Linked DNA regions of Homo sapiens: all the other regions are linked to region 3. A link means that fine-mapping ties the variant in region 3 to the plasma level of a protein whose gene starts in the linked region. Region 3 holds a variant in brackets. A gene starts in each other region. All regions are shown on their forward strands.

Region 1 (8,158 bases), not on the chromosome of region 3:
GCAGAGAATGGGATGCAGAGGTAGAGACAAGAAGGGTAGAGGTGGCAGGTATCCCTGATAAGGGGGAGACCATGGGTTCATCCTGGGATTCCACCCTCAGAGTCAGATGCCCTTGGGATCACCGACTAATGCCTCTCCACCTCACTCTGGACTGCCCAAGGAATCTGTCCTGTGCTACCCACAGTGCAGATTGCAACAGGGCTCCTCCTCCCCACCCAGGGCCCTGATTAAGGGGATGGATTGCACACTGTAGTGAGACATCCATCCTGACCCCACCTCATCAGCCAGGGAGCTCCCTGAAGACAGGCCATCGAGAGAGGCACACAACAGGCTGTGGTCTAAAATAAACTTTTAATTGCACATTTGTGTCTTGGGTTATCTGTGGGGTGAGAAACCTCCTCACTTCCAATCCCAGCTATCTGGGTACAATCTGGTGTTGTGGTCTGGCTGTCGGCGAGGGGTAGAGGTGGGTGCAGGACTGGCCCCCGAGTCTGCACCGACCTCTTCAGGGCAGGGAGCTCAGACCTGGGAAGGGAGGGGCAGCACAGGCTGGTGGTCAGCCTGCAGGTGCAAGAGGAGGGTTGGCCTCTCCCCCTCCCCGCCTGAGTCGGGGTCCACTCACTCACCATGGTAGTACTTGCACTGCTTCAGGGCCTCGCTGAAGCCCTCACACAGGGACAGGTCACTCTGAGTGGTGGAACAGTCCAGGAACTGCCTGATCTCGTAGGCGCAGGGCCCCATCTGCAGGGGCTGGGGGGCAGCGGGGGTGGGGGCCTGGGGGTACAGTGCAAGAGGCTGCAGGATCAGCTTGGAGTTGGCACCTGGAGGTGCGTTTCAAACCTGGGGCCACCTGCCCCTCCCCACATCCCCAGCCTGGGTGTCCCAAGGGTCCTAGGCAGGCTGAGTGATCCAGCAGCAGAGGCGGCTACAGACAGCATGTTTCTGCTGCCTTTTTTTTTTTTTTTTTTTGAGACAGAGTCTCACTCTGTCACCTAGAGTGGAGTGCAGCGGCGCAGTCTCGGCTCACTGCAACCTCCGCCTCCCGGGTTCAAGTGGTTGTCCTGCCTTGGCCTCCCAAGTAGCTGGGGCTACAGGCGCCCGCCACCATGCCCAACAAATTTTTTGTATTTTTAGTAGAGAGGGGGTTTCACTATGTTGGCCAGGCTGGTATCGAACTCCTGAACTCATGATCCACCCGCCTTGGCCTCCCAAAGTGCTGGGATTACAGGCATGAGCCACTGCGCCTGGCCTCTGCTGCCTTCTAATGGGCACTTTGGGCGGGTGCAGGAGAGGGAGGAGAAGGCTCTAGGAAAGCCCAGTACTCTGCCTGTACTCTCAGAGTATGAGCCCCACCCCCACAAGTTCTAGCACCTTCCTGGCTCAGCTACACTAATCCTCATGACCCCTGACCTAGCCACAAAGCCACATTTGGCTTACGGCGGTGGGGTTCCTAGCAGGGGAAAGGTCATCAGGGAAGTGGCTCCCCTTCGCCCTTGCGCCCAGCGGCCACAGTGCCCAGACCTGGGTGTGGGGAGAACAGGGGCTCAGGAAATCCAACATCCCTCCCCTCTGCTAGGGTGAGGTGACCTTGGGCGAGTCTCTGAGCCCTCAGGGCCTGGGTTTCCCATCTTTAAAGGGCTGGTTGGTGTCTCTCCCTGGGAGCTTAGGGACCCTGGCCTCAAGGGAGAGGCCGGGAAGCCTGCCTCTAAGTGACAGTGAACTCAAGACCAGTGGACTAGGACCCTTCCCGGGCAGAGTCCTGGGCTGAAGCAATGGTGAATACACGCGGACACTCCTCACTGGACACTTGGGCAGCTCCCTGTGTGGCCTCGAGATAATCCTGCCTCAGTTTCTCTTGGACTCGCTGCTCACCTGCTGGACAGCAGGCTGGGAGGGCTCCGAGCTCCCCCCGCTGAAGGCTCCGGTCAGGGCGCTGCCCATGACGTGTCCCACAGCCGAGCCCACGGCTACCCCTGCGGCCGTGGTCGCCATCTGAGCCATGAGCCCCGGCTGGCCCGAAGGGGCGGGGGCTGGGGCGGCTGCCGAGGGCGGTGGGTGCGCGGGCGGGTGGGCAGAGGGCGCGGCTGGGCGGCTGCGGGGGTGGGAGGAAGCAGGGTTAATCCTGGCCAGACCCCAGGCTGGAGGGCTGCAGCTCCTGGAAACGACCCCCGGAGAGATGGACGACCCACGTCTCCACACGTGGGTGCTGCACCCCCACCCCTCCCCCCGCCAAGATGGCGCAGCAGCAGCCAAGGTCACTCTGCGGACGCCCTTAGGGGAGTGCCCACACTTCCCTAACCCCCTCCCCACAGGGCCCTTGTCCCCCTCACACCTGGCTGGCCGGGAGGCCGCGCTGCGGCTTCCCCGAGGCATGGTGGCGGCGGTGGGACCCGGGCGACCTTAGAGACGGCGGCAGCGGTGCTGTCGCGGGGACAAATGCCGCAGCGCTTGTCACAGCCGGCGCAAAAAAGGCGGGGCCCCGGGCGGGGCCTCAGGAACACGCCCCCAGCGGGAGGCGGCACTGCCCCCAACCCTATCCCCCTTCTCCCGTCCTCCGGACATCTCCCTTCCAGCAGCTCCGGGTCTCGGCTGGAAATGGGACCCTGCTCCCTCCCTGCGCCTGGCAGGCTGTGCGGGTTCTGGGGACAGGGGCCAGTGTCGCAAAGCGCCGAGGGCTTAAGGAGGGCGACAGTGCCTTCTGTTAGGACCACCGCAGAGGGCAGGGAGCGGAGTTGGGGGTTGTTGCGAGCCCTGGAGGGGAGAGGAGACGGGGAGGCGACGGGATGGGGCCAGCTGGGAAGGGGACGCGAGGCTCCAGGCTGGACTCCGCTCTCTGCCCCCTCCCGGACTCGGCTGTCTGTCCCCTCCCTCCAGACAGGGTCTGCTGACCACCGCGTGGCCTGGGAGTCTCCGGTGGCCTAGGGAAGTGAAGCGCGGCCCTGGGGAAGGCCTGGAGCAACCCATCCCCAGAACTCCCACGAGGGGGCGTCCCAACCCGTCTTCGACTGTTGGCCAAAATGCGCTGCCAATGCTGGCAGCCTTACGCAGTGCCCGCGGGGGATATGAGGCCCCCCGCGCGGCCCTGAACCCCACCGGATTCCCCGGGCCGGCCCGACCGCCCCCACCTAGTCCCTGGCCCCGCGAGTGCAACCCCCGACACTAACGGCCTTTACGCGACATCCGAGCAGCGTGTCTATCCCAAAGGCCTAGGAGCATTTGCCCGGCTCGGTCAAATCTAGCGCAAGTTTGAAGCCTGCGGCCTCGCAATTTTAGCAGCTTCGTTCCAGGCCAGGTGAGCTGGAGCGCGGATTTAGAATGCTTTCCTGCTCTTCGAGAACTTGAGGTTTTAATTTTACTTTTTACTTTTTTTTTTTTGACACGGAGCCTTGCTCTGTCGCCCAGGTTGGAGTGCAGTGGCGATCTCGGCTCACTGCAACCTCCACCTCCCGGATTCAAGCAATTCTCCTGCCTCAGCCTCCTGAGTAGCTGGGACTACAGGCTCGTGCCACCACACCTGGCTAATTTTTGTATTTTTAGTAGAGACGGGGTTTCACCATGTTGGCCAAACTGGTCTCCAACTCCTGAGCTCATGATCCTCCTACCTCAGCCTCCCAAAGTGCTGGGATTACAAGCATGAGCCATCGCGCCCGGCTGAGCTTGAGGTTTTTATGGTCTTTTCTGGGTGACTTTGCAGTGGTCATATTATTACTCCTAGGTGGGGGAAGGTAGGGACTGTCCCTCATCACTGCTGTGCCTGCAGAGGACTCCTGACACCGGGATTGTCGGCAGGGTGCAACCAAGAGCAAAAGCACCCAGAAGTGGGGGTGTGGGTCACCAAGTAAGAGAGGAGGCCCCTCCATAAGGAAGGAGCAGGTCAAGGGGCAAGGGGAGTGGTGGCTGGGGCGTTTGGCCCTGCCTGGCATGCTCAATTCTGTGTGTGCACAGCTGTCCCCAGCCATGCATGCTCTCCATGGAAGTCAGGTGCAGCCCTGTGTTCTCTCACACTGCAGTCCTTTCAGCCAGCCTGTGAACAGGGCCCTTCCCCGCCCTGTCTTCAGTTTCTCCTCTCTGAAGGGGGGTGACCACCCACCTTGAGGGTGGCCTCCCAGTGAGGTGAGCACACCAAGGGTGGGCCATTCTTTCCTGGCAGACTCACCAGGCCTGGTCCAGCCGCTACTCCCTTGTTCATGCAGTCCATGCCACCTGGTTCCTGTTTGCCACACCAAACAAACTGAACACTTCTCATGGTGGTCCCCGGGCCTAAACTGCAGAGAGTTGTTACTTCAGCTCCCATGGCTGATGGACTGCAGGTTCCACAAAGCATGGCCTTGCACCTCGGAGGCACCCAAGACCACTTAAGTGGGTTACACAAATGAAAATGAGGCTGAAAGGATGACACTGAAGCAGGCATTGAAATGCCAACTTTTTTTTTTTTTTTTTTTTGAAACGGAGTCTTGCTCTGTCGCTCAGGCTGGAGTGCAGTGGTATGATCTCCACTCACTGCAACTTCTGCCTCCTGGGTTCAAGCGATTCTCTTGCCTCAGCCTCCCGAGTATCTGGGACCACAGGCACATGCCACCATGCCCCGCTAATTGTTTGTTTTTTGTTGTTTTTTTGTTTTTGTTTTTGTTTTTTTAAACAGAGTCTCACTCTGTTGCCAGGCTGGAGTGCGGTGGTGTGATCTCAGCTTACTGCAACCTCCACCTCCCGGGTTCAAGTGATTCTCCTGCTTCAGCTTCCCAAGTAGCTGGGACTACAGGCACGTGCCACCATGCCCAGCTAATTTTTTTTTGTATTTTTAGTAGAGACAGGGTTTCACCATGTTGGCCAGGATGGTCTCTTGTGATCCGCCTGCCTCAGCCTCCCAAAGTGCTGGGATTACAGGCATGAGCCACCACGCCTGGCCTGAAATGCCTACTTTTTAAAAATGAGTCACTTTAGCGGGGAATAGTGGCTCATGTCTATATCCCAGAACTTTGTGAGTCCCAGGCAGGCAGATTGCTTGAGTCCAGGAGTTCGAGACCAGCCTGGCCAACATGGTGAAACCCTGTCTCTACAAAAAATACAAAAATTAGCAGGGCATAGTGATGCACACCGGTAGTCCCAGCTACTTGGGAGGCTGAGGCAGGAGGATCGTTTGAGCCTGGAAGGCGGAGGTTGCAGTGAGCCAAGATCACACCATTGAGCAAGACCCTGTCTCAAAATAATAAAAGTAAATAAAAGTGAGTGACTTTAAAGAAAAGATTGCCTTTCAGGCGCGGTGGCTCACGCCTGTAATCCCAGCACTTTGGGAGGCCGAGGCGGGTGGATCACCTGAGGTCAGGAGTTCAAGACCAGCCTGGCCAACACGGTGAAACCCCATCTCTACTAAAAATATAAAAAATTAGCTGGGCATGGTGGCGGGCGCCTGTAGTCCCAGCTACTCGGGAGACTGAGGCAGGAGAATGGCATGAACCTGGGAGGCGGAGCTTGCAGTGAGCCGAGATCGCGTCACTGCACTCCAGCCTGGGCGACAGAGAGAGACTCCGTCTCAAAAAAAAAAAAAAAAAAAAGAAAAGATTACGAACAGTGTAGGTTGTAAAAATTACTGCTGTCTTACTTCTCCTCGCCCTCTAGGAGTCTCTGTGGAGTCTTCTTGAATAAGCTGTGAAACATTTCCCCACCCGCTTCCCTTTCTTGGCCCAGGCTTCCTGACCACAGCCTCACCTTTGAGCAGCTCAGAGCCCTGCCTGCCAGGATGCGAGCCACTGCCTGGATCGTGGCTCTGCAGGGCCACCCATGATGGAACAGGTCGCCTGGTGAGGTGGTGAGGCCCTTCATCATTTCAGGGGGTGTACAGCAGTACTGGGTAACCCCGAAAATCAGGGATGAGACTGAAGGATCCCTTCCAGAATGTGGACACAACCCCTCCTTTGAGTCTCACCTCCTTTCCTTCTTTTTTTTGAGATGGAGTCTCGCTCTGTCACCCAGGCTGGAGTGCAATGGAACAATCTCGGCTCACTGCAACCTCCGCCTCCCGGGTTCAAGTGATTCTCCTGCTTCAGCCTCCTGAGTAGCTGGGCTTACAGGTGTGTGCCACCACACCTGGCTAATTTTTGTATTTTTAGTAGAGACAGGGTTTCACCATGTTGGTCAGGCTGCTCTCCAACTCCTGACCTCGTGATCCACCTGCCTCGGCCTCCCAAAGTGCTGGGATTACAGGCATGAGCCACTGCGCCCGGCCTCTCGCCTCCTTTCTTTCAAGTCTGAGGTGGCTAGCCTGGAGGGGTCCCCAGGGGCTTGTTGGGCACTGACGAGGGGACACCCTGGGGGCCCAGTACTCCACTCAGACACCTCCCACAGCCTTCTGACAGCATCCTTCCCACAGCTGACCAGCTAGAGGACCTCCTGACCCCTCCACTTGTCTGCTGGTGTGGAAAAGCCTGGACCCTCCCTCTTGGAGCCTCAGTTTCCCTATCTGTAAACTTCGGTCTATCCCAAGCTGAAGAACTGGCCAGTCCCTGCCATATGCCTCACTTTCCCCTGGGACACATTTTAATATCCCTTTCCTGGCCAGGTGCAATGGCTTCCCCATGTAATCCCAGCACTTTGGGAGGCCAAGGTGGGCAGATCACTTGAGGTCAGGAGTTCGAGACCAGCCTGGCCAACATGGTGAAACCCCATCTCTACTAAAAATACAAAAATTAGCCAGGCATGGTGGCGCACGTCTGTGGTCCCAGCTACTTGGGAGGCTGAGGTAGCAGAATCGTTTGAACCTGGGAGGCGGAGGTTGCAGTGAGTGGAGATCACACCACTGCACTCCTGCCTGGGAGACAGAGTGAGACTGTGTCTCAAAAAATAATAATAATAAAAAATAAAATAATATCCCTTTCCTCACAGGGGCTATTGTGTCATCTTCTAGAAGGATCCGTTGAGGCTCTGAGGGGTGGGGGAACTTGCTTGTGGGTAGGACCACCTGTCAGAGGTCAGAGGTCAGGCCACCAAGGAGACCCAGTGGGATGCGCCTTCCAAAGGTGGGGGTACGGATGGGACCCATGAAACCTGACTCCTCTCAGACTCTAGCCAAGTCTAAGACTTTGGACGGCCACCACCCAGAGGAGAAACTGAGACCCAGAGCGGCACGGGTTGGCCAGGGTCACCCAGCACCAGATAGGGACTTTGCCAGCCCCGGGGCAGGACCCTGTCTCCGGCCCTCGACCCCGCTGGGCCGTACCCTCCCCGTTCACCTCCCCCACCCGGGCCGCGGCTGCTAGGAGAGTTCAGAACAAAAGGCGGCGGGGGGCGGGGCCGAGGCGGGCCGGGGGTGGGGCGGAAGCTATAAGGGGCGGCGGCCCGGAGCGGCCCAGCAAGCCCAGCAGCCCCGGGGCGGATGGCTCCGGCCGCCTGGCTCCGCAGCGCGGCCGCGCGCGCCCTCCTGCCCCCGATGCTGCTGCTGCTGCTCCAGCCGCCGCCGCTGCTGGCCCGGGCTCTGCCGCCGGTGAGTGCCCGCCACTCGCCGGCCGCTCCTCGCTGAGGGGGCGCCGGGCACGCGGGCTGGGCCCAGCGGCGGATCCGGACCGAAGGGGGCGCCCCGGGTGGCCTCCAGCGCCCGGTACCCGAAACGCTTTCTGGTTCCCTCTAGGCGTGATAGACAGCGAGCTTGCAGTCCCTGGGGGTGTGAAGGGGAGCCGGCGCCGGCATCGTTCGGGCTGGTGGGACGGGACTCCACGCTGGACTCACGCTTGCTCCCAGCGTGGGGACCTGCCTCTCGCGCTCCAGCCGCGGGTGCTGGAGTGTGCGTTGAAGGAAGCAGCAGAGGGAGTGGTAACAGGGCCCCCTATTCATCGCAGGGACAAAGCCGAGCAGATCCCAGGCAGGTGTCAGCCTGCAGGTGTGTGGCCGCAGTTAGTACACCTCCAGGTGTGCGGTGGGATGAAGGATAAAGGGAGAAGGGAGGGCAGCGCTGTGCTGCGGGAAATGGGGTCTAAGCCTGGAGATGTCCCCCGCGGGCACCTGCCGGCAGCAGTTTTGGGAGGCTTGGAGCCAGGAGAACATGAGTATGAAATAGTATGAGTGCAGTGTGTGTGTGACTGAGAGGTGGCTGTCAGAAAGAAGCGGGGAGAGAAAGGAAAGGGAGAAAATGTGTGCTCAGGAGAGGAGAAGAAAGCCCAGGTAAGAG
Region 2 (8,184 bases), not on the chromosome of region 3:
AAGCCATCTATTTTTTCCTTGATTTTATTTGAATATTAGTTTGTCTTTAGAAACCAAACACCAAATTGAAATAAATTTTGGTCTCTGATAGTTTTCAAACTTGTTCTACAAACAGTTTATATTATTGCAAAGCAAGTACTATAGTTGCTACAAAACTGTATTTGTGTTTTGTGTAATTATGAAATGTGATGTTTCATTGTTTATGTTAAACAGTTGCTATAACATCTAAATGGTTGTAATATCTTCCCATGTCACTTAACTTGATTTAATACAAAATTTATTATATGTTGATATTTATATTTTATGCTGAGTAGGTCTTGTTATATAATAATATGGTATGAATTAAAATCTTTAATTTTTCGATAATGATATCTGAGTTATCAACTTGCAAATAATGTAATTGGTAACAATCAAAGCAATTCTTGTAAGCATGCATTCATTGCAAAAATGACAATATAATGCTAACTCATATGTATTGTTGCAGAGTGTCATATGACATATTATTTAATGTGTACTTTAATATAAAAATATGCAGATGTTCATATACTGTTAGTGTATTGTAGGCTAATGTTTTTATATTTAATTGCAGTACTTTATTTTTTAAATAAGCATCACTTTGCCCTTTTTATAATCTGGTATTATCTATTCTAACATGCTACTCTGTAGTTTTGCCATTAAAAGACTTTAAAAATTTTGATATGTTTATCATGTAATTGAGCAATCGAAAGAGAAATAAATGAAAATAGAATAAAAATATTGAGTCTATATCTCAAAATTTTTATTAATGATTAGGATATTCAACAAAACATTATCGTTTTTCTTTTTTTTAATTTTATTATTATTATACTTTAAGTTTTAGGGTACATGTGCACAACGTGCAGGTTTGATCGTTTTTCTTTTAATAAATTCTGGTGCAATTGGATACTGTCTCACATGATTCTGAGAGAACATAGTAGCATAAACATTATCATAAAAATGGGGCACATTTTCACAAATACAGCTGTGTATCTGAATTTAGATCAATTTGCTTATCAAAATAGTATTTAATATTGGAAATAAAGACAGGAGTTTTTGTTTGGAATTCAGACCATTCTAGTTTTTGAGGAATTGAGTTTTTGAGGAATTTGAGTTTTTGAGGAACTGAGTTTTTGTTTGGAATTAAGAAAATTTACTGGCAATTTTTGAAAATGCTAAACTGTTATAACAATAACTTTCAAATAAAAAAGGTGACAAATCTTTTTTTGTATTTTTAATTCAATTTTGAAAGTACTATTAATATTCCCTAGCTGATTTTAACAAAAAATACTAAATGTTATACTATAAGATGTGAGTGTGATAAAATAATTTGTATAAAGAGCTATTTTTTGGGATACTTGAATATCAACCAGATTTTCAAAATAAGGGACAAGCCAAGAATTTTTAAAAGATGTTCAAGCAAATATTCAAAATATTTTCCCTGTGTATAATTTCCCTATCTTTTAAAAAGTTACAATTAAATAAATATTTATTTCTACTTGGAAATAAACCCTCTTAAAATGGTAGAGAAAGAGCCATCTAGATAATATTAATATGATCTAGAACAAGCTCTCTTAAATGTATTTGAAGAAATTGGAACAACGACGTCTTTATATCAAACTTAAAAAGCTTGTTTTGTTGCAGACTAAGTGAAGTGGGGAATTGAGGAAGTCTGATTATAAATAGACTACATCACTGTCTTTCAGGGATTCTTCAGCTATGCTTTAGGCATGTATACATATAGAAGACACTACATTAGATATAAGAAACTTAAGATGTTTTATCTGTCCTCAATTAGGAAGAACATTTGCAAACTTCATTGTGTGAATAATTTGAACATTTATTAGAGAGATTTCTTGAGTCTTCTCTGAAAATTAAATCTCCTCTTAGGTTGCTATCTATTCAATTACAATTCTCTTAACATCTGGGACCGTCTAATTTTGGTAAGAATGAGCAGATGCTGGCAAGAAACCATCGAAATGAAGATAATATTCAATGTAAATATATATTATACTTATCAAGAAATGACTCGAAGAAGGAACCAAATTTATAGATAAGATGTGACTTGTTTAGCTATTAGTAGCTTATGTTTTATAAAAATGAAATATGGAATACATCCCAAACATATTTTTACAATTAAAAAACTAGGACAATACAAACAAACAACAACAACAAAAAATTAGGAGAACAAAACAGAACTTTGATAACCCAATTAGAAATTTATTTGGCATCCAAAAGACTACTTTATTTTATATCCAGAGAAAATTCTGAAGATTTTTATTCAAATGTTAAAGTCACACTTTAAAAGCTCACGCTTATCCTTAAACAAAGTAACTACTTATATAAGTAAACTGTCATTGTATTTATTGTAACTATGAGATAGTTTATATTAAGGAAGGCATTACACAGACTAGTGACAGGAGCTCCTAATTGAGTTTATTATCATGAAATATATTCATAAAAATGTAGAAGACATACTCATAAAATAAAAATATATAATAAATAGAAATCATAAACAATGAAATCACATTTCAGTTTACTTTTAGTCATTCATAGATTTTATAATCCTTAATATTTAATTCCCTGGTTAAAGTGGAACTGATGTTATCAAAATAATAGTTTTACAAGATTATAGGATGAGCAGAAAGTACATTTGCTTACTATTTCTATAATAGTAAAATAATAGCAAATGTAAAATATTTTGCTACAATTTAAACAAACATATAAAAAGTGAACACAAAGGGCAAAGGGGACACGCTCATAAATCACTGTAAATCAAATTAGAAAACAGGTTTTGTTTTTATTTACATAAAATAAACAGACCTCTCATTTGCCAGTTGTTACTGTTAAAGTTTTAGGTGACAAAATGTTGATTGAGAAAAGTATTTTGTTCAGGAAAAAGTAAGTTAACTACTAACTTTATCCCATTTAAAAAGAAAAAAAAAGGAAGACTAATCAAAGATTACTTTTACAGAGAGATTCAATAAACAATGCATTTAAGGGTAAGCCAGTATGAAATGTTTTTTCTTAGGAAACTCACTAAGAATATATATCACAGTGATTCCACACGTGCTATGGTCCTTTATACAGAGTTGAATAAATTCATTATTTTCTCAGCAGTTAAATAAACAAAGTCTGCGTTCCCTGAATAATAGGAAGATTTGATGCATGTGCCTGCTGGCTCACTTCCTCTGTCCCATTTGCAAGCTTCAGTAACTGTTCCCCACAGAGCACCAAAGGGACACAACAAACACATGAAGAGATCACTCTCATCCCACAGAATGAGCTTTACAGTAACTTGGATCTCTACACGAAGGTGTAAATTCAGAGCAACTTACCCGATTCTCTGCAACAAAGATGGCAAAGTTTGCAAGGAGTGAAAATCATGTAATACTTCGGGGAAATGCAGGATGCAGCTGCTGCTCCAGCCTGTAAATTGGACTGCACTGACATTCAGTGTTACTGAATGTAACAATCAACTGTTACTGACAAAGCTCGCGAGAGTTGGCAGCAGCAACTTGAAATCTGTTCAGAGGCTAATGGTATAAATGCAATAGTGATTCATTTACAGAAGTATTACAGGATTCATGCTTTACAATTGCAGGTAGTCTTCTAAGAATGAAGAAAAAAAGCATAGAAGATTCTTTAACTAAAATAATCTGAAATGTAACAGAAAATGCATGTTTCTTTTAACTCTAAACTTTAAAAAAATTTTCCTTTTTTTAAGAATATACATATTTCCTATGCTTGTCTTAAGATTTAAAGACGTATACATCATTCTAAAGTAGTGCTATTATTGAAATCCATTATAGCTTCAATCTGTGCTAATTATATAGTTAGAGAAGATAGTAATATAGAAAATAAGAAACACAATGCTCTAGATATAAGCTATGCAAATCAAAAACTTAGTTCTATTAACTGAATGGATGTCTCTGATATGTATCTCCTTTCAACCCCCACACTTCAACACTTATTTAAGTCATACAAATTTCAGCATTGGTAATTTCCTATTCAGAAGACCCTGCAGGCAGTCATACATGATGAGAAGCCACAATTTTCTGGTCAAGACAGGAAAAATAAAATGAATAACCTTCACCAAACTCTATAAAAGAGACACATTTGTCAACTTGCAGTGCACATGCTCTGGAGAATATATTTATGTCTTTGGCGCTTATCTTTCTTGAAATGATGTTCAGGAAAATAATTTTTTAAAAAACCTTTGATAAACTCCTTAATCCCTATCTTCTCAATGCAATATATTCTTAATCTTCTGTAAGTGATAGCTTTCACTTTTGAATCTCTTACTTGTGGGCTTTCTATGGACTAAACAGAAGGCATGTATTAATATTTGCAGGTGAGCACTTTTTTGCCTTTTAATAGAGTGTTAAATTTTCAAACAAGCAAATATAATTAGCATTTGTTGTAATTCTACCTTATGCCAGTCATTATAATTGACAATTTATATTAAATATTTTATATTATTTCAGCAAATATGAGAGTTAATATTATTAACCACCTCATCAGATGAGAAAGCTAAGGTTTCTACAAATCAGAAGCTTACTATATTTCTTACCACTAGTAGCTGTTGGAAAACAGAATTTTAATCTGTATTATTCTGTTATTTTATGTCAACTGCTTCCAAGAGAATAACCATTTTGGTCTTTTAAAATTATCTTTTCTGTGAAAATTGCTACTTAGGCAGTGTTAATTCAATGATAAATATCATGATCACAATAATTTATAATGTATTTAGAATATAGTTTATGTAATAACAAGTTAGTTACACAAAAGGTACAGAATACATAATCTATCTGAAAAGGAGAAAAAGGAGGTGGAGCACAGTGGTTCATGACTGTAATCCCAACATTTTAGGAGGCCTAAGTGGGCGGATTGCTTCAGTCTGGGAGTTCAAGACAAGTCTGGACAACATAGCAAAACTCAATTTCTGCAAGAAAATGGGTCAGACATGGTGGTGCAAGCCTACATTCCCAGTTACTTGGGAGGTAGCTGAGGTAAGAGTATCACCTGAGCCTAGGAGGTCGAGGCTGCAAGCCACGATTGTGCCACTGCACTTCATCGTGGGTGACAGAGTGAGATCCTGTCTCAAAAAAAAATTAATCAATAAATCAATAAAAGCAGGAAAAGGCTTTTTAAATGGAAGTATATTGACAAATTTGCAATGGTTTTTATAGTGATGGCATTTCTGTTTAAAATATAGTAAATCTGATGTTCCACATGAGAGTTCATGGGTTCAATATACATGATTTTTAAAAATCCAAATGTCAAAATTCTTCTCTCCAACCCAAGTCCACTGCATTGTTTCCTGTGCTAGCATAAGGTCAGCCTATCAAACGCGGCAATTATTAAGGAATATTTTGTGACGTTAGTGAATTCAGCAAAGCATTTTACATGCTTCCTGCATCTACTCACTGCTAGGTAAAATATGTCACATATATACACATATTTCATTTTCATCTTTAAACAGGAAGCCAAACAATAAAATAATTGGTTTCAAGCAGATCTTTATCTTTAACGCATGTTTAAACTGGCTAACTAGCAACATCAACTGATTACACAAGTTGGCAATTTTTCTTCTTCTCAATGTCTTTACTTCAAAGAACCACCTTCTGTTACTGTCCCTGTAGTTCTTTTCCTCGCATGATTTCACAGCTATGCCACATTAGTTCATTCATTATTTTAGTGCACCTCTAAAGCATTTATTCTTCCTGTCTTGAGAGTTTCTTCCTTGTGGCTCAACTTACAGCAGCTGCTTTGCTTCTGTGGTGTCATCATTTTCTCACACTCATCCAGCGGAAGGATGTAGGTCACACACAGTGAGCTTGTTTCAGGGTTAGTAGGGAAGCACTATTCCATTACATCACAGCATGGATGGTTAATGATCCTGCTGTTAAATGTTGAGTATGCCTTGTAAGCGACACTGATGAAATACCACAAGACACTTGACACGGCATTAACACTGCGCACATTTTGCAACCATATATGCTGAAGCTTGGGCAGGACAATCATTATGGTTTTGGCTCTATGATCACTTTCAGTTAGCCAGTCACAGTGGTTTTTTGCTTTTAAGGTCCCATTGTAACTCAGTTACCACTGTTTTCTAGATAGCAGCATTCAGTAAGATTTGAGATGGTGTGAAAAACATTAATCCTGTATTATACATTAGTTTTCCTTAGGCATACTGATGCCAAAAAAGTGCTCTAAACTTATATTAATTTTATTCATTTTTTTTACAATAGCACTGCATTCTCTGAAATGAATATGGATAACAAAGAAAAGTATATATAAGTATAGATAGATAGATAGATAGATAGATAGATAGATAGATAGATAGATAGATAGATTTTTTTTTTTTTTTCCTGAGATGGAGTCTCACTCTGTCGCCCAGGCTGGAGTGCAGTGGCAGGATCTCGGCTCACTGCAACCTCTGCCTCCTGGGTTCAAGCAATTTTCCTGCCTCAGCCTCCTGAGTAGCTGGGATTACAGGCACCCACCACCAAATCTGGCTAATTTTTGTATTTTTAGTAGACACAGGATTTCACTATGTTGGCCAGGCTGGTCTCGAATTCCTGACCTCAGGTGCTCCACCAACCTCGGCCTCCCAAAGTGCTGGGATTATAGGTGTGAGCTACTGCATCCAGCCCAGAAAAGTATATTTCTACATTTTACATATCACAGAGAATGAAAAGACCATTTTGTATATTCCAATCAATTTTTTAAAATATGTGTATGTGGTTATAGTTACATAGATAAATATAGTGGTAGTCAAATGGCTTATCATCATTCTTCTTGCTTTTTATCTTATGATATTAATTTCCTATTAAAATATTTTGATTACTGTGTGATATATTATCATATGGGCATATTATGGTTCATTGTATCTCTTGTTACTTATATGATGATAATAATAATTTTAGGTAATAAATATTATTTGAAAGCACTATTCTATCCACTTTGAATACATGAATTCATTTAAAACTCATGACTACCTTTAAAATAAGCACTATTATTAACCTTATTTTACATTTGAGAAAATATAGCCACAAAGAGTTTAAGTAACTTGCTCCAAATCATACAGATACCGAGGTTAGCTTCTGACTTTTTTTATGTATTATTACAATAGGCATTTTGTATATCGATATTTGAGTGCATCTTTTAATTATTTTCTTAATTTATTTTCCCAGAATTGGAATAACCAAATACGACATGGACAAAGTACATATACATATATGTGTGTGTGTATATATACATGTGTGTATGTATATATATTTATATGTATATTCAATCTTCTGAAATCCTACACAGACTGTTGAATAGAGATAACTTTCCAACAATTCTGGCAAAAAAGAGAAATGTTCTTATAATCAGAACTAACCTGAACATGTCTCTGGAGCCCAGGTACTAGACCCTCATAGCTGGATGTGGCAGGTGTTTGAAGGTGGATATCTCCAGAGATATTAGAAGTAGGTCCAGAGCCACAGGTAATAAAATTCTTTAGTGATGTTGTAGCAACTAATATGGAAGGCCTTGCAGGAAGTGACATCTGTAAGGGATAACACATAGATATTTTGGGGTTAAGGGAGAGTGAGTGATGGGAGGTCTGTGGTGCCTTTTACATGAAGATACAGATAGTTTGGTTAAAGGAGTTTTGGAAAGAGACAACAACAATTTGGTGAGACACTAGAATATTAGACTCTAAGAACAGAAAGAAAATCAAGAAAAAGCAAGAGCTTCTAAGGAAATGTGGTGCCAAGTGGATTTTCATGGAATTGGCAAAGCCAGCAGAATCAAAGTAAGAAAACAAATTCTGAACTAAATTGTTCAGGGCTTGAGCAAAAAAGGAGAAACTCATTGTTTTAAAACATAAAAAAAGAGAGAAAAACAGCAAGCTTCTTTGTTTATCACCTAATTTACTGAATTGGCTTAAATTTACTCTTCCCAAACCCTTGACTATCTTTGGAGTCTCACTCTCAGAAAAATTGCAAAGTAACACATTATCAAATTCATCAAAGTGCTATTTAAACATCCAGATTTCTAGGCCACATCCCTGGGCTTTGGTTTCAGTAGACTTGAGGACAGCGTTATACTACTGTCCTCTGTGAAGCTGATAGAGGGAGTTCACAAACTACACACTAAGAGGCAAAGTCCTGG
Region 3 (8,169 bases):
CATTAACAACACCCTCAAGAGTGCCCTCAGTGCTGCGAACTGAACATGCTGAAGGCAATGTTTTTCTGTGATTATATGGTTTCACCAGCCATTATGATGATAATATTATCTACTAGAGTCTGTGGCGCTAGCTAGCACTAAGTTATATATTGATTTTTCCACTGAAAATTCTTTCTTGGGCTCTGACTAGGTGGACAATTCTAAGTAAAGGTTTTTCTAACTTCTATCACTGTTACTTGGGCCCTGAGGTTTTCTATTAAAATAGGACATGAAATATTTCAATATTATGCATATTCCTGGAATAATTAAAATTTATACTGATTATAAAGCTAGGCATATAATACATCCCAAAAGACATACATTTCAAAGCAGACCAAACATTCAAATCTTCAGATCCCCCCATTTAACTTCTGGAAGAAAACCAAGCGATCTCCTGGCTTGGGCCCTTTCTTCCTTAAAAATCTATGGAAGACTGTTTTCTTTCTTTTTAAATTTGTGTGATTATGGCAGCAGAGGGCAGGGGGTGGTGATAACAGCATATCAAAGTGGTTACAAAGTACTCCCTCTTCAAGTAGCATCCAGTGACAAAGATGTGATCTCATTTCCTCATAAATGTTTGACTGAAATAAAATTATTTTCACTGAAGAATGTTTAGGACACAAATAAAGTCACAGAATGAGCAATTCCAGTACATCTCCTATGAATGACATTTTAAGGAAGCTACTTGAGGAGTTTTGCTTTCCCTTTTCAACTCTTCTATCCCTATACATTCTACATACGTAGAAACAGAGTACTCAATAAGTGGTATTGAGTAACTAGTAATACTCATTGGAACTTAAAACATCATCTTTTATCCAAAAATTTCAAAGGGCAATATAGGAAAGTATTACAAATTTACATAAAAAGAAGATGAAACATGAGAAAAAACAAGTTATTTCCCTGCAAAGCAGATCAAATAGTGAGACAAGGAACTTTGACTTCTAGTCCCTTTAAGCAGGACGTAACTGCTAGACACAGTCTGAATGTCTAGATATATTTATACTAAACTTACAAGGATCAAAAAAAGGAATGAAGGGTAAATACAAAATAATCTTTTTGTAAACAATTCTTAGATTATACCCAATGCAGAATGTTTAATGAAGCAGTTGAGTCACAGCTCATAAGTCACAAAACCATATTATAACTCAAAGTCAAATATGTATTCGTTTGCCAGATATATTCGTCGGAATATAAGAGCTGCCAATGCCAAAGTCAGGATGACAATCAGTACAGCTGACCCACCATGATCAGTGTGGTTGTCTCTTGGCTGGTGGCCCTGGATTACATCTGGTGAAGTAGACAACCTTCTCTGACTCTGCTGCTGGGCCCGGCGCTGTCGAGGGCTCATGGAGGTATTCTTAGCTACAGGTTGGGTAGGTTGATGAAAGGATGCTGCTGAGGAATTCTGGA[G/C]TCCGTACTAGGAAATTTTAAGAAACTTTGTTTGAAACTGGCAAAGAAGATTTGTAAATACACTTGTTATCTATTCAAGAATACACAATCTCAGAGGACAACATATGACTAAGGGCAACACTACCAAGAATGATTGTTACTAATAATACATCCCTTGAGGGGCATCTAAATTTAGGTTCAAAAAAAAGTCATAAGTTAGGACAGCTTTTTGGCCTTTTAATAGTTTTATTAATATATTTAGAAAAACAATCCCTTAAAACATTGGTCTAGATGATATTTTAACACATACGCTTAATGAAAATATGTATATACATATAATGTTTTAATTAGGTTCCTATGTTTCAGATGCCTTTTGTCTCTATTTTTTTAATCATTATTTTTTTAGAGATGGGATCTTGTTACATTGCCCAGGCTGGTCTTGAACTCCTGGGATCAAGCGATCCTCCTGCCTTGGCCTCCCAAAGTGCTGGGATTATAGGCATGAACCAACGTGCCCAGCCTCAGATGCCTTTTGGATGGTATATCACTAACTAAAAATTAAGTGCCTTGATATTATAAAATTCTAAATTTTTTCCTATTTAAAACAATCATACAGCACTTTGGGAGGTTGAGGCAGGAGGACTGCTTGAGCCCAGGCATCTGAGACCAGTCTGGCCAACATAGTGAGACACTATCTCTACAGAAAAATTTTAAAACTTAGCCAGGTGTGGTCATGCCCACCTGTGGTCCTAGCTACTTGGGAGGTTAAGGCAAGAGGATCACTTGAGCTCAGGAGGTTGAGGCTTCGGTGAGCTATGATCACATGCCTGCACTCCAACCTGAGCAACAGAGTGAGACTCTCCCTTAAAAAGATAAAAAATCACATTCTTAGTTAAGTCCCTAGTGATATATATATAAATTTTTCTAGAATAACCAGCATGTGTGAGGGAGTTTTGCTTTTTATTATAAAATGAAATGGCTTATTCAGAACCTCGATCCCTACCCTGGGAAAAGGAGAAAATCTGACAGACTGCAAGAACAAAACTGCCTTCAGTGTTTTTCCCATTTCTACATTTCCCATTGCTTTTTGATGCTAAAATATCTGCATTAAAAAGCAACAGATGGCCTGATGTTATCTGAGGTATTTAGAGTTGTGGCAATCTCTTGCCTCTCCTTCAGGCTAACAACAACAAAAAAATCATAGCTTATCTGGGATTTGATGTATAACATCTCAATTAATTTATATTATACTTAATGTAAAATAACCACCCTTAGCCAAACCAGGTTTCAGTTACTTTCATAGTGGTCAAATTATATAATCATACTCTGAGATAGTTTATATGTAAATATAATTAAAAACTTAACTTGCAATTTTAGACAATTTATTGCTTGTTGGTATTTTCACTAAAAATAGTCTCAATTAATGACCTGTATCTATGAATAAGAATTCTAAGTTTTATGTACTAAATCAAAACAAGAAATACTACTATAATAACATCATTATTTGTACACTCTAATTTACTTAAACTTCTTGATTTATTTAATTGTATTCTTAGCATTTTTTAAAGTACCAATCCTAAGATTCATTCATTCAATCAACAAACAAACATTGGCAATCTACTATATAGAAGGCACTAAGCCAGGCACTGGGGATACAGTGGAGAAGCGGAAAGAGACCCCTGACCCTCACAGAACTTACATTCTGGGAAGAGAGATAGACAATAAATAATTACAAAGTAAATTACAACTGGAATAAGTATAACTGGAATATGTAACAAGGGGACTTAACATAGATTGAAAATACACAAAAGATTTAAATACATCACAAACATTAGGAGGCTGTCCTAAAAGGTGAAAAAAGATTACCACCTTCCTTTTTGTAATAGAATGCTTCTATTAGAAAAAAAACTATGAAATAAAAAGTAATTAGAAAGCTTTTTCAATATCTTGAACTAAAACATATTGACCTTAAAATTAATTCATTGTTTTCCCCTGCAATTCATAAAATTACATTGGGATCACACAAAAATGATTTAAACTCATCGCTACACACTTTTTTCTTGGACCTCCATCTTCAGTCCCCCTAGACTACCACCCTGTTCTTCTTCAACCAACTTTTCTCTGCCCAGCTCACTCTCTGAATAGGAGAGACTCACTCAAGACTATTCACTCCCACTTTACGTACGTTATTGCTGGGTAAAGGGCAAATCTATATTTGCCCAACTTCTATTTCAATTTTCCCTCACCCTTTAAAGTCTTCAATAAACTGGAGAAACAACAACAAAAAAAATGTGACTACTTAACCAAACAATCTGTTACCAAAAAGACTTCCAAAGACAGTTAATCTTTTATATATAGGAAGGAAAATCATTTTTTTCCCATAATCCTTATTTTTTGGCACCAATCCAGTCATATTTTTTAAATCACTCTCTCTGATCACCTAGGCCAAACAATTTCTTAGACAACAGGTCAGGGCACCACTAACAACACTCATAGCATTCATTCTTTTATTCAACAATTATTTATTGGACACTTAGTATATACGAGGTAGCATTGTCCAACAGAATTTTGTGATGATAGTAATGTTTATGTCTACACTGTCCAATATGGTACCCATTAGCCACATGTGGCTATGGAGCACTTGAAATGTGGTGTGACTGAGGAACTGAATTTTAAATTCTACTTGATTTTGATTAAATTTAAATGTAGACACCTGCATGTGGCTGGTGGCTACTGTGTTGGACAGAGCAAGTCTAAGTAAATTTTTGGCTCTACGACTTTATTAAGTCAGTACCTTAATGCAGCTGAACAATCCTGCCAAAAATAGTGTCTATTTAGAAAGTGGCTAACATATGGATATTTTGTTTTATTCAGTCTAACACTATATTAAAATTAACTTTTCAGAGAATCACAGAATTCTGGAGGGACAAGACAAAAATTATTTAATCCAGCCCCATTTAACAAAAAAAGAAAACTGAGGCCAGAAAGCATGAACAACTTGCTCAACATAATAATTCATTAGCGGGACTGATGAGTTAGAATCCAGTTGTTAAGAGAACCAAATTTTTCAGATATTTGATCCAGGATCTTCTCCTCCTATTGCAAACAGTGATAATGATAGAGACATACATATATATTAAAAGATAAGAGCCATACCGATGTACTGGCCGTAGCACCCTGGAATGTTGTAGGTATATCATCTTGTAAATCAGTTAGTGAAAAAGAGTGGTTTAAGTCTGACTCAGAGATAGTCTTTCCAGATGAATTGACTTCTGCCTATAAACAAGATAGACCCAAGAGCAGTGTGACAACAGGAAACAACAGGAAACATACACAATCTACAACCTGCTAAATCCTCTCTGTTGGATTTATTTTAATTGCTAGTTTAATATCTATTATCAGGCAGTTAATCACTGAGCACTCTTGTGTCCAACACTGTACTAGGTATCATAGGAAGAAGCATACACAACACCTGTTCTCAAGAAGCCGTTACTTGATGAGGGACAAAACTAACACCCATGGTTCACAATCCACAATGCTAAAAAGCTCTCAAAACTCAAGGTTTTTTTGGTAATTTTTAGGCAAAGCCTGATATGAGCTGATGTGAACCTATGAATAGTCTTTATCCCACATTAGTGTAAACATTAATCCCACATTAATGTAATATTCCCAGATTTGCTGAAGAAATCCTAATGGATTTGATTATGAGGTGCTGCCCCAGATCGCACGGCAGGTTAGTTAATATATGGTATATGTAAGATCTTTTCTTAAGTCTGAAAAATTCTCATGTACAAAACACATTTGGTCCTGAGATTTTTCAGAAGCAATTTTAAGTGTAATAGGAATCCTCAGAAGGAAGAAAGTAAACATGTTCTGAGCAACTCCTCCTCCAGGCACTACAATAAAAGAGAAGGGAACTGGACCTGGAAAGACAGACAGTCCATAGAGAAGTGGAGAGGGAAGAGGAAGAGAGCATGCTGCTTAATGCAGGTTGACATTTCTGTTTGTGAAGCTAATTAAATTCCAGAAGGATTAAATACTTAATACTTTACGTCTGTATGTATGTATGTATTTATTTATTTATATTTTTTTGAGATGGAGTCTCACTCTGTCACCCAGGCTGGAGTGCAGAGGCACAATCTTGGCTCACTGCAACCTCCACCTTCCAGGTTCAAGCGATTCTCCTGACTCAGCCTCCCAAGTAGCTGGGATTACAGGCACACACCACCATGCCGAGCTAATTTTTTGTATTTTTAGTAGAGACAGGGTTTCACCGTGTTAGCCTGGATGGTCTCAATCTCCTGACCTCGTGATCTGCCTGTCTCGGCCTCCCAAAGTGCTGGGATTACAGGCGTGAGCCACTGCGCCCAGCTAATACCTTCAATAATTAAATATTTAATACTCAAAGTATTAAAATATTATATAATCCTATGTTCGGGTAAAACATATACAGAAAAAAGGGATATATAGGAGGGATGCCAAAATATTAACAGTAGCTATTTCTTGGCGGTGAGATTATGAATGTCATTTTCTTTTTCTTTTTTCTTTTTTTTTTTTTTGAGATGGAGTTTCGCTCTTGTTGCCCAGGCTGGAGTGCAATGGCGCGATCTCGGCTCACCGCAACCTCTGCCTCCCAGGTTCAAGCAATTCTCCTGCCTCAGCCTCCCGAGTAGCTGGGATTACAGGCATGTACCACCATGCTTGGCTAATTTTGTATTTTTAGTAGAGACGGGGTTTCTCCATGTTGAGGCTGGTCTCGAACTCCTGACTTCAGGTGATCCGCCCGCCTTGGCCTCCCAAAGTGCTGGGATTACAGGCGTGAGCCACCGCGCCCGGCCATCATTTTCTTCTTGTTGCTTATCTATATATTCTGTAATAATAGCTAGAATTTATTAAGCACCAGGGACAGTTCTGAATGCAACACATGTATTACATATATTAATTCAATCCTCACAGCAATCCTATGATTTAGGTACCATTATTATTTATAGATAATAAAAAGGCACAAAGTGGTTAATTAATATGTCTGACATCATACTACTAATAAGCAACAGAGCTGGGATTTGAACCCTGGCATTGTATACCAGAGTTCAAGTTTCACTCCCTCACTATTCTATAAAGCTTTCATGAATGTAGTTAGGAATTTTGTAATAAGAAAAACATTCCATGCCAGTATTAAAACATTTCATGTACCCTATACATATATACACCTACTATGTAACCACAGAAATTAAAAATATAAAAATATGAAAAAAGAAAAACATTGGCAAATGTCATATTGTAATAGAACTGCATCGCTTTCCTTTCTATGCAGAATCCAGCAGTAAACAAAAGGGTTGCAAGATTAGCATTTATTTAAGAATTTATAGTACCTTAAAGCTTATTTGCCTAGCCAGTTCTTTGGCTTCTTGGTCAGCTTGGCTTGAATCGCTTCCAGATTTTAAAGGCAACAGGACATCCTTCATGGCAGAGCCACATCCTTCACAACAGAAATCTTGTGATCTAGTAGAAAAAGATTTTTTAAATGAAAATAAATAGTTAAATGTTTAATTCCCTCTCACTGAGACACTCAAATGCTCGATCATTAAACTTAAAAGAAAGGAACACTGGAAAATTCCACATCACATTTATCCACATGCTATGAATTAGAAAATTAATGTAATGATTATAGTCCTGAGACAAGTAAATGTTAGGCTGGCTTTAAAAAAATCCAGGGCTCAGATGCTATTTTTTCCAATAAACTATCTAAAGAAAAATAAGTTTTACATCTATACAATGAGAAAATTGTCTATTATACTGTCCTTGAGATCACATATAACAAACCTATTTTAAGGCTGTGAAAAAAGTCCTTTAACAAGATCAAATTATCTGTTAGCAGAAATATATATAAAGCAGTAAAGAAACTAATTAAACATAGAATTTACAGATATTTCTAGGGAAAAAAAAACCCCTCACAAATAGCAGTATAACTTGAAAGACTTGGGAGAACTTGCAGAAAATCCAAAGACTTAATTTATTGCTGATTATACATTAGGTAGAGACTCAGGATATGTCTGTTAACTAGATTATTTTCTAAAATATATTTGTTTTTCCATTTTTCCCTTTGTATTCCAGATATAGTCAAAACTTCCTTGAAGTTTACAAGAGTCCTCTGAGGATATGAATGACTGAAAGTAAACATGCATCATATATAAAACATATATTGTTACACTGTTAAACTTCCTTCTAAAAAATTGTTTTTCATAGTACTTCTAGTTCTATTAAAAAACCTTAGGTCTTGAAGAACATGCTATTTAAAATTATGAAATATCATATAAACAAAATATATGTAAAAGTAGCAATAATTTAGTTTTTCTGTTTGTTTGTTTGTTTGTTTGAGACAGGGTCTCCTCGTTCTATCACCCAGGCTGGAATGCAGTGGTGCAATCATGGCTTGCTGCAGCCTCAACCTCCCAGACCCCAGTGATCTTCCCACTTCAGCCTCCCAAGTAGCTAGGACCACAGGTGTGTGCCACCACACCCCGCTAATTTTTATTTTATTTTATTTTTTTTTTTTATTTCATTTTATTATTATTTTTTTTTTTGTAGAGACAGTGTCTCCCTGTGTTATCCAGATTGGTCCAGAACTCCTAGGCTCAAGCGATCCTCCTGCCTCAGCTTCCCAAAGTCCTGGGATTACAAGCATGAGCCACTGTGCCCAGCCTAATTTAGTATTTATTGATGAGTATTTCTTGTTTTACC

Which allele goes with the higher level. Positions count from the first base shown, and alleles are read on the strand shown. Strength reflects both the effect of a copy and how common the allele is.
In carriers of allele C in region 3, the plasma level of the protein whose gene starts at base 2,471 in region 1 tends to be lower than with G alone (weak association).
In carriers of allele G in region 3, the plasma level of the protein whose gene starts at base 3,463 in region 2 tends to be higher than with C alone (weak association).

What was found. PIP is the chance, under the fine-mapping model, that this variant and not a neighbour inherited with it causes the effect. The UK Biobank Pharma Proteomics Project read protein levels with antibody pairs (Olink). The fine-mapping took linkage between variants from a reference panel, not from the people measured, so its PIPs are less certain.
Region 1: it holds the start of CHCHD10, and the variant in region 3 is fine-mapped to the plasma level of the CHCHD10 protein (UK Biobank, PIP above 0.99).
Region 2: BCHE starts here. The variant in region 3 is fine-mapped to the plasma level of the BCHE protein (UK Biobank, PIP above 0.99).

Annotation. Positions count from the first base shown.
Region 1 is chr22:23,765,502-23,773,659 of GRCh38, forward strand. It overlaps CHCHD10 (coiled-coil-helix-coiled-coil-helix domain containing 10), which reads right to left and starts at 2,471. Exons shown (of 4, transcript NM_213720.3): 1 at 2,333-2,471; 2 at 1,873-2,092; 3 at 627-774; 4 at 333-525. The coding sequence starts at 2,373. The coding sequence ends at 506. C22orf15 (chromosome 22 open reading frame 15) reads left to right here. Exons shown (of 6, transcript NM_182520.3): 6 at 220-362. The coding sequence ends at 231. MMP11 (matrix metallopeptidase 11) reads left to right here and starts at 7,348. Exons shown (of 8, transcript NM_005940.5): 1 at 7,348-7,477. The coding sequence starts at 7,370. It overlaps LOC107985577 (a long non-coding RNA gene), which reads left to right and starts at 2,725. Exons shown (of 3, transcript XR_007068022.1): 1 at 2,725-3,292; 2 at 5,686-5,806; 3 at 6,368-6,876. RefSeq lists enhancers at 9-808, 809-1,608.
Region 2 is chr3:165,833,961-165,842,144 of GRCh38, forward strand. It overlaps BCHE (butyrylcholinesterase), which reads right to left and starts at 3,463. Exons shown (of 4, transcript NM_000055.4): 1 at 3,354-3,463. RefSeq lists an enhancer at 3,281-3,575.
Region 3 is chr6:89,328,502-89,336,670 of GRCh38, forward strand. It overlaps UBE2J1 (ubiquitin conjugating enzyme E2 J1), which reads right to left. Exons shown (of 8, transcript NM_016021.3): 6 at 6,801-6,930; 7 at 4,585-4,704; 8 at 1-1,456. The coding sequence ends at 1,178. Among named protein-coding and RNA genes, the nearest start is that of GABRR2, 17 kb to the left of the region's middle. The variant G/C (reference allele first, on the strand shown) is at 1,450.